2 linked regions of the Homo sapiens genome follow. The protein of the gene in region 2 interacts with the protein of the main gene of each other region in a pairwise test. Each region holds a gene or a part of one and is shown on either strand. Other genes may lie near its edges. The genes, in order: PEG10 and SMCHD1.

Evidence for each region.
Region 1: the proteins of SMCHD1 (region 2) and PEG10 interact in a two-hybrid assay, tested with the Homo sapiens proteins (one large-scale study listed by BioGRID).

What each region holds. Positions count from the first base shown.
Region 1 is NC_000007.14:94,666,108-94,670,262, reverse strand, and holds the end of PEG10 (retrotransposon-derived protein PEG10), read right to left. Parts: 3' UTR 568-4,155; downstream 1-567.
Region 2 is NC_000018.10:2,658,504-2,662,332, reverse strand, and holds part of SMCHD1 (structural maintenance of chromosomes flexible hinge domain-containing protein 1), read right to left. Parts: intron 1-3,829. UniProt on the Homo sapiens protein: Non-canonical member of the structural maintenance of chromosomes (SMC) protein family that plays a key role in epigenetic silencing by regulating chromatin architecture.

The sequences.
Region 1 (4,155 bases), on a different chromosome or scaffold from region 2:
GCTACTCTGGTAGCCTGCTTCTGAGGGTAGACAGTTTTTAGTTGTGTGTTTTCATTAGTTCTAGATTTTTCCTTTTAGTCACTATCTTCCCAATAAACAGTCATATTTATGTGACTGTCATGTCATATGAACCTAGCAGCCCTTTGAAACTCTTCTTCTATGTCCTAATACTTCATAATTTTATATTAATGAATCTCAAGTATTTAAAGTAAAACTGATGTTAAAGTTTGTGATAATAGCAACCAGAGTTGCTATTAATTGTGTATCTTTATTTTATATGTTAAACTTTTGCAGCTGGAATAACTGATTTCCTGGAGTATTCTGGCTATATAATTCATACTAGGTTGTAATCAATAATGTTCTTTATACCACCACCCCACTATCCCAAACTCAATTCCACCCCTACCCTACCCACCCTCCTACCTCCCTACCCTTCCAACAATCCCACCCTCCCCACAGCCCCACCCTACTCTAGCCTCTCCCACTCTCCCTACTCTCTCAGCCTTCCCCACCCTACCCCACCCCATTCCCTTGATGCTGGTAGATGCTGAAATGATCAGGACACAGTTTGCACTTAACCACTAAATCTTTATTGAATTTTTATTGTAACAGCAATGCAATATTAGCAAATAGAGAGAAATATAGAGTGAAGAGAATACAGCAATAAAGTTAGAAGGAGGGGTAGGGGCAATGGGGTTCAGTGGTAGGAGGAGGGCTACTGACAGGGGTAAAAGCAAGGGTTTTTATTTATCACTTTTATAACTTCCATGAAAATTTACCATCCATCATTGACAAGTTCATTCTAGCAGTAATTTATCAGAGGTCACTCATCCTCTATTAAATTATTAATCTAATCACCTTTGAACTTTCTCCCACTGGGGTTTTTATCCATGTCCAATTCGCTCTAAATAAGTTGGTCTCCCTGCAGTTCCCTCCGAGTTTATTTGAAATCTTTAAGGATAGCAATTATAGGGTAAAGGGTTACAAGTAAGTACGCATGTCCACTTATAGCGATATCTAATACATAATATTATTCTAACATTCTAAATAACCCCACCCACTTAAAATTACTTAATAGTCCCTCCCACCCTAAAATGCTTATGATTATATATCCCCTATTACTTAAACTTGATTACACAAAGAAATAAAAGCAATGCAATTTTCCACAGACCAATTCAATACCATTCTACAATCTAAAACAACAAAGAACTTTCAGTCTCATCAGATGTGCATTCTCTCTTTAGATGAAAATGTAGCATGGTTCCCGCAGGGCTCTCCATTTCTGCCCAGGTCTTTCCAGCAGGTTGTTCTCTGTTGTCAATCTTGGAACTGTCTGTATCTGATGTGAGATGTCTGTGGTGGATGACAACTGGATCAATTCAGAAGTCCAAGAGGTACCTACAAACTTAAACAGAATTCCAGACTGCACCATATAGATGTGGCCCTCTTATTTTGTGCACCTGCAAGTTCACTGTATTACTTCACGATTTGATCAGACTAATTCTCCTTTTTTCCACTAAGACAAATACCTCACTGTCCAAACTAAATTGACCCTTCATAAATGTATGTAAACTTTCTGTGTTTCAATATCCTAGCATGATAAATTTAGCTAGTTCTCTCTAGGCTTGCCTATCAATGGGAGCTCTTAGATCTTCTTCCTTCTTGATTTAATTAACAATGTAAATTTGGGCTAAAAGTCAATTAATTAATTTTGCCAGTTTGAAAAACTCGACTACTGATTTGCTTACTAATTCATCTATCTCCTTTATGTTTTTTATTTTGCTCCCTTTCTAACTTCTTTAGATATCAAATTCCATTGATTTTTTTCCTTTCTTATGAATAAAGCCATTTTTGTTGGAAAATGCCAAAAAAAATTTAAAGGATCCAATTAACATAAATTTGATTAACAACAAAATAAATCAATTGAGTGAAAGGAAACTTAACCAAACTTCAAAACTATAGAATAATAAATTTAGAATTACTTATCCTTAACATCTACATTTATAGATAGCATATATAGCAATAGAGCATAGTACACACTGCCAAAAAGTTAATCACAAGCTTTAGTAAACAGCCAAATGTGGATCAGGGACTTTCTGAGTTGTTAACCCACAGCAGCATATTTTCCCTAATCGTTCTTGTCGTTGGTGAACTTCTCCAGACTTTTGCTTGCAGTGGTGGCAAATGTCCGTGTGCACATGCCAGGGCTACAGACAACGGCCCATTTCTAGGCACCCTGCAGCTTGAAGATCAATTGACAACTGTAAATTTGACAAAAAAACAACTTGAATTCAAATGTATGGAGGATGAATTGATACTTGAGGTAAACAGAAGTGACTCTTCAAAATAGTTCAGAAGCACAAATGCACCATTTTAAAAGTAATTACTCTAAAACACATGAGTGATTGACAAGCTTTCTGATTCCATTGAAGGAAAAAAAAAGTTGTTTTGGATTAAATAGCCAATTAGGTTTCTCTTTTCAAATTTTATATCCTTTTATATGATTTTTAAAGGCCCAATTGATAGAATTGAAATTATATATGATGTTAAAATTGAAGATGAACAGGATGAATTATTATACAAATGCTCCAGTTCTGAGGAGCCTCTCATTCACAGCATTGTAAGAAGTTCACAGTAAAGGAATATTTTACACTATGTTACTTATCATTTTTACTTAGTTTAACAATAAGAACTGGATAGTGCTTTGTAATTCAATGGAAGTTTTTGAAAGCCTAGTCACCACTTCAAAACACACTAAAAATTATACTAAAAATTTTAAGTGTTTAAACATGCAAGAATAAGAGCAGATGATAATGAACATGTGAAAGATGATGCTGATGAAAAGTGAAACTTCACCGTTAGACTCCTCTTCATGTCAGGCAATTTGAGATATACACCATGTTGTTTTCTACTGCTCAAACTGTGCTTTGGCAATTAAAGCCTGCCTCTTACATCTCTGTGTGTGGCAGCAAAATGGAGTCTCAGCAACCAGGCAGGAAAATGACACAAATCCTGCAGCAGGGTCAATGGCAGTAGCAAAGAATTAAACAGAAAAAGAGAGGTTAGATAAAACAGTTCAAGGTAGTAGCAAGGGACCAGGCTAAAGGAAGTCAGGCAGTCCCAGGTTAGCACAAAGCTTCCAGGGGACATCAGAGGTGTCACTGGGCTGAAGACAACTCTTGTGTTGTCCGTTGCTTTGAGTCCTTTGAGTTGCTTTCTGAGGCTTTTCATCCATTGGCAGCTTCACATCAGCTCCATCCTCTAGAGGGACCTTTTTCATTACGTGGATTCTGATCCTTTTGAAGTGGTTACCATCAAGTAATGTGGAGCTCACTAAGGAAGTCCACATCCTCAAGACAGTGTCCACAGCCCTAATTCCTCTTCTTCAAAGATGTCCCCCTTCCAGGCATAGGAGTGTGAATCTGGGTGCTAAATCATTTCTCCTCTCTCCACACATCCTAATGCTACAGTCTAATGAGGGGACTGAAGATGAAATGCCCAGATGCATATGGAGGCAGACACATGGATAGATTCTTCCAAAACGTCAGCTGGTGCTTTTCCAGCCAATTAAGAACACTCATGAAAATTCTTTCTGAAGTACCAGGACAAATCTCTTAAGAGTTGGGTATGGGATTTTGGAGTCCTTTTGATGTGCTACTCTTTAGCCCTCAAAGGTGATTGAGAGGTGGTCACATTTCATGAACATCTAACAACGCTGGAGCCACCAGTAATCTCTGGTTACCAGGTTTAATGCTTTGTGGAAGCCATCATGGCATGATGATGGTAAGGTGTTGTGTCAAAGCCGGAGTCATTGGGTACATGTGATTTGCACCATGATGTGAAGACATAGTCTTAACATGCAAGAGTCCATCTGAGAGAGCACTTTCTTTTCAGGCCTGAGATGTTTCATGTCACAAGGGTTTTTCCTGCTCCTGGGAGAACCAGTCGAGTTGCTGCTCCTTGAGAATTAACAGAACCATGGAAATGGAGTTTGAAGACGGTGAAGTTTCTAAGGGTGCAGCGAGAGGATCACGGAAGCCTTTCCACACTGCACCGATAATTTTGGCTTCCTTAATAAGGCCTCAGTCCTCCAGTGATTTAAAAAGAGGGTACCGAAACCGCAAGAAAAGTCATGTCCTCCTCCTCCTCGTCTCC
Region 2 (3,829 bases):
CATCCTGTAGTTACTGAAAAACTATGTGCAAATGATTTTTTTAAGATCTATGTTCACCTAAACATATCTAATTATTCCATATAATCCCACATAAGTCTATTATTTTTTCTTTCTTTCTTTCTTTCTTTCTTTATTTATTTATTTATTTATTTTATTTTTTTTTTTTTGAGACGGAGTCTCGCTCTGTCGCCCAGGCCGGACTGCGGACTGCAGTGGCGCAATCTCGGCTCACTGCAAGCTCCGCTTCCCGGGTTCACGCCATTCTCCTGCCTCAGCCTCCCGAGTAGCTGGGACTACAGGCGCCTGCCACCGCGCCCGGCTAATTTTTTGTATTTTTTTAGTAGAGACGGGGGTTTCACCTTGTTAGCCAGGATGGTCTCGATCTCCTGACCTCATGATCCACCCGCCTCGGCCTCCCAAAGTGCTGGGATTACAGGCGTGAGCCACCGCGCCCGGCCTTTCTTTATTTTTTACAGATTTTTTTGAGTACTCTTCTACGATAACTGCATATAATAGTTCATTTAGCCTTCACTAACTACATAGAAGACTCCCCCTATTTCCTAGCTGTCAAATTATCTACGGATAGGAATGCTAGCACCTTATTCTCTTCTTCAAACAATGGCAACCGGGTTATCGCTCCTGACCATCTAATTGTATCCAGTATTGCCTGTATTTTCCTGCACTGGAGCAAATAGTTCATTTTCTTTTGATTTTTAACCCATATTAAAAACCCACAGATGTTTAATCCATATTAAAAACCCAGATGTTTAATCCATATTAAAAACCCACAGATGTTTAATCCATATTAAAAACCCACAGATGTTTTTTAATCCATATTAAAAACCCACAGATTTCTAATCCATATTAAAAACCCACAGATTTCTAATCCATATTAAAAACCCACAGATTTCTAATCCATATTAAAAACCCATAGATTTTTAATCTATAAATCTACTATTATTCAATTAAGACACACAAACTATCTTTTTTTTTTTTTAAGTTCCTGGATACATGTGCAGAACATGCAGGTTTGTTACATAGATATACATGTGCCATGGTGGTTTGCCACACCTATCAACCTGTCATCTAGGATTTAAGCCCCACATGCATTAGGTATTTGTCCTAATTCTCTCCCTCTCCTTGCCTCTTACCCTACAACAGGTCCCTGTGTGTGATGTTCCCCGCCCTATGTTCATGTGTTCTCATTGTTCAACTCCCACTTATGAGTGAGAACATGCAGTGTTTGGTTTTCTGTTCCTGTGTTAGTTTGCTGAGAATGATGGCTTCCAGCTTCATCCACGTCCCTGCAAAGGACATGATCTCATTCTTTTTTATGGCTGCATAGTATTCCATGGTGTATATGTGCCACATTATCTTTATCCAGTTGATCATCAATAGGCATTTGTGTTGGTCCCACGTCTTTACTATTGTAAATAGTGCTGCAATAAACTTTAAAATTAATCCATATTAAAAATCCATGGTTTTTAATCCACATCAAAAATCCATATGAAATATCCATGGATTTTTCATCCATATTAAATATCCATGGATTTTCCAGGGGGCATGGTGGCGCATGCCTGTAATCCCAGCACTTTTGGAGGCCGAGGTGGGTAGATCGATCACCTGAGGTCAGGAGTTCCAGACCACCCTGGCCAACATGGTAAAATCCCATCTCTACTAAAAATACAAAAATTAGCCGGGCATGACGGCTGGTGCCTGTAATCCCAGCTATTTGGAAGGCTGAAGCAGGAGAATCGCTGGAACTTGGGAGGCGGAGGTTGCAGTGAGCCAAGATTGCGCCACTGCACTCCAGCCTGGGTGACAAGAGTGAAACTCCCATCAAAAAAAAAAAAAAAAAAACCATGGATTTTTAATCTATAAATTTATTATTATTTAATTAAGACACATAAACTATCTTTTTGTTTTCCCTGCTTCATCTATAAAAATTATTTCTTGAATTCACAATTTTTCTAAGTATTTTATTTTATTATTGTTTGTTTGTTTTTTGAGACAAGAGTCTCGCTCTGCCACCCAGGCTAGAGTGCAGCGGTGCGTTCTCAGCTCGCTGCAACTTCCGACTCCCGGGTTCAAGTAATTCTCCCTGCCTCAGCCTCTCGAGTAGCTGGGATTACAGGCACCCGCCACCAGATCCAGCTAATATTTGTATTTTTAGTAGAGACGGGGTTTCACCATGTTGGCCAAGCTGATCTCTAACTCCTGACCTCAGGTGATCCGCCCGCCTTGGCCTCCCGAAGTGTTGGGATTACAGGTGTAAGCCACTATGCCGTCCCCAACTTCTCTTAAATATTTAAGGACTAACTGACTTGCAGTGCATAAAATGATTACCTACCAAAATGATCAGTTAATTTTATTTTTAAAATTATTTTTTCACTATCTCTGAACAACAGGTAATTTTCATCCATGGATTAGTCAGAAAGCACACAGCTTAATTAGCACTGCTCTGAAACTCTGCAAACTAGTCAGCTTTTAATGTGGCTCCATTATATTTCGTTACCTTACTATGGCACTTGCTAAGCCATAGTTTTCTGCTTTTTTTTTTTTTTTTTTTCAAAATCTCAAGTTTATTGTAGAAATTGATGAGCACATCTTATATTAAAATACAAAACACCTAGAATAGCCGCACAACAAAAAACATTGGAGCCACACAAAGGAAAATGTAGACAATTTCTTCAAATTGGTGGTGGGGGGATATGCACACATGGGACTTAACATCTGGGCATATTTTAGAACTAACCAAATGAGTCATCTTCTAATCGTTGATTCTGCAAGGCCACAAGGGCTCAGGTGAGTCAACAGCTGCTTATCAGAGGTCTAAGGGCTTCTTGCAGATTTGTCCTTTCCATTTCTTCCCTCTCCTTTTCCATGAGGTGAACTTTATTCAAATAACAATTTAGAGCTGGGCGTGGTGGCTCATGCCTGTATTCCCAGCACTTTGGGAGGCCAAGGCAGGTGGACCACCTGAGGTCAGGAGTTCAAGATCAGCCTGGCCAACATGGCAAAACCCCATCTCTACTAAAAGTATTAAAATTAGCCAGGCGTGGTGGCAGGCACCTGTAATCCCAGCTACTCAAGAGGCCGAGGCAGGAGAATCACTTGAACCTGGGTGGCAGAGGTTGCAGTAAGCCAAGATGGCACCACTGCACTCCAGCCCGGGCAACAGAGCGAGACTCCGTCTCAAAAAAAATAAATAAATAAGTAACAGTTTAGGATCACCCATAATACTGCCTGACACTACAAACATTTATTGGTTTAATTTACATTTTAACAAAAACTTTAGTATATTATTTTGTCTCTTCCCCTAAGGACAAAAGTGATGGTTCTAATAAATAGTGTGGAGTAGTGTAAAAAATATATATATGTGTGTGTATATATATGTGTATATATGTGTATATATGTATATATGCGTATACACGTATATATGTGTATATATGTGTGTATGTGTGTATATATATGTATATATACATATACATATATATACACACACACATATATATGTATATGTATACATAAGCTTTGGAATCAAATTGACCTAAATTCCAATCCCAGTTTCACTGCTTGTTGACCATGTAATCTCAGATTATTAATTCACTGACTTAATTCAGTTCTTCGAGTACGTAATGGAGACAAAGTTATGGGATCCGAGGCACAATCTAATAATGCTTAAAAGAAGTCTAACAACAAAAAAGTTAGCCTTCTCAGCCTTCTTTTTTCTTACTAGTTGGTCCCTCTCATTTCTAACTAAATTTAAAACGTTTTCTAGCAGGATAAAGTGGGAGGAAGGAGGAACAGAATTAGTTAAAAGAAATAT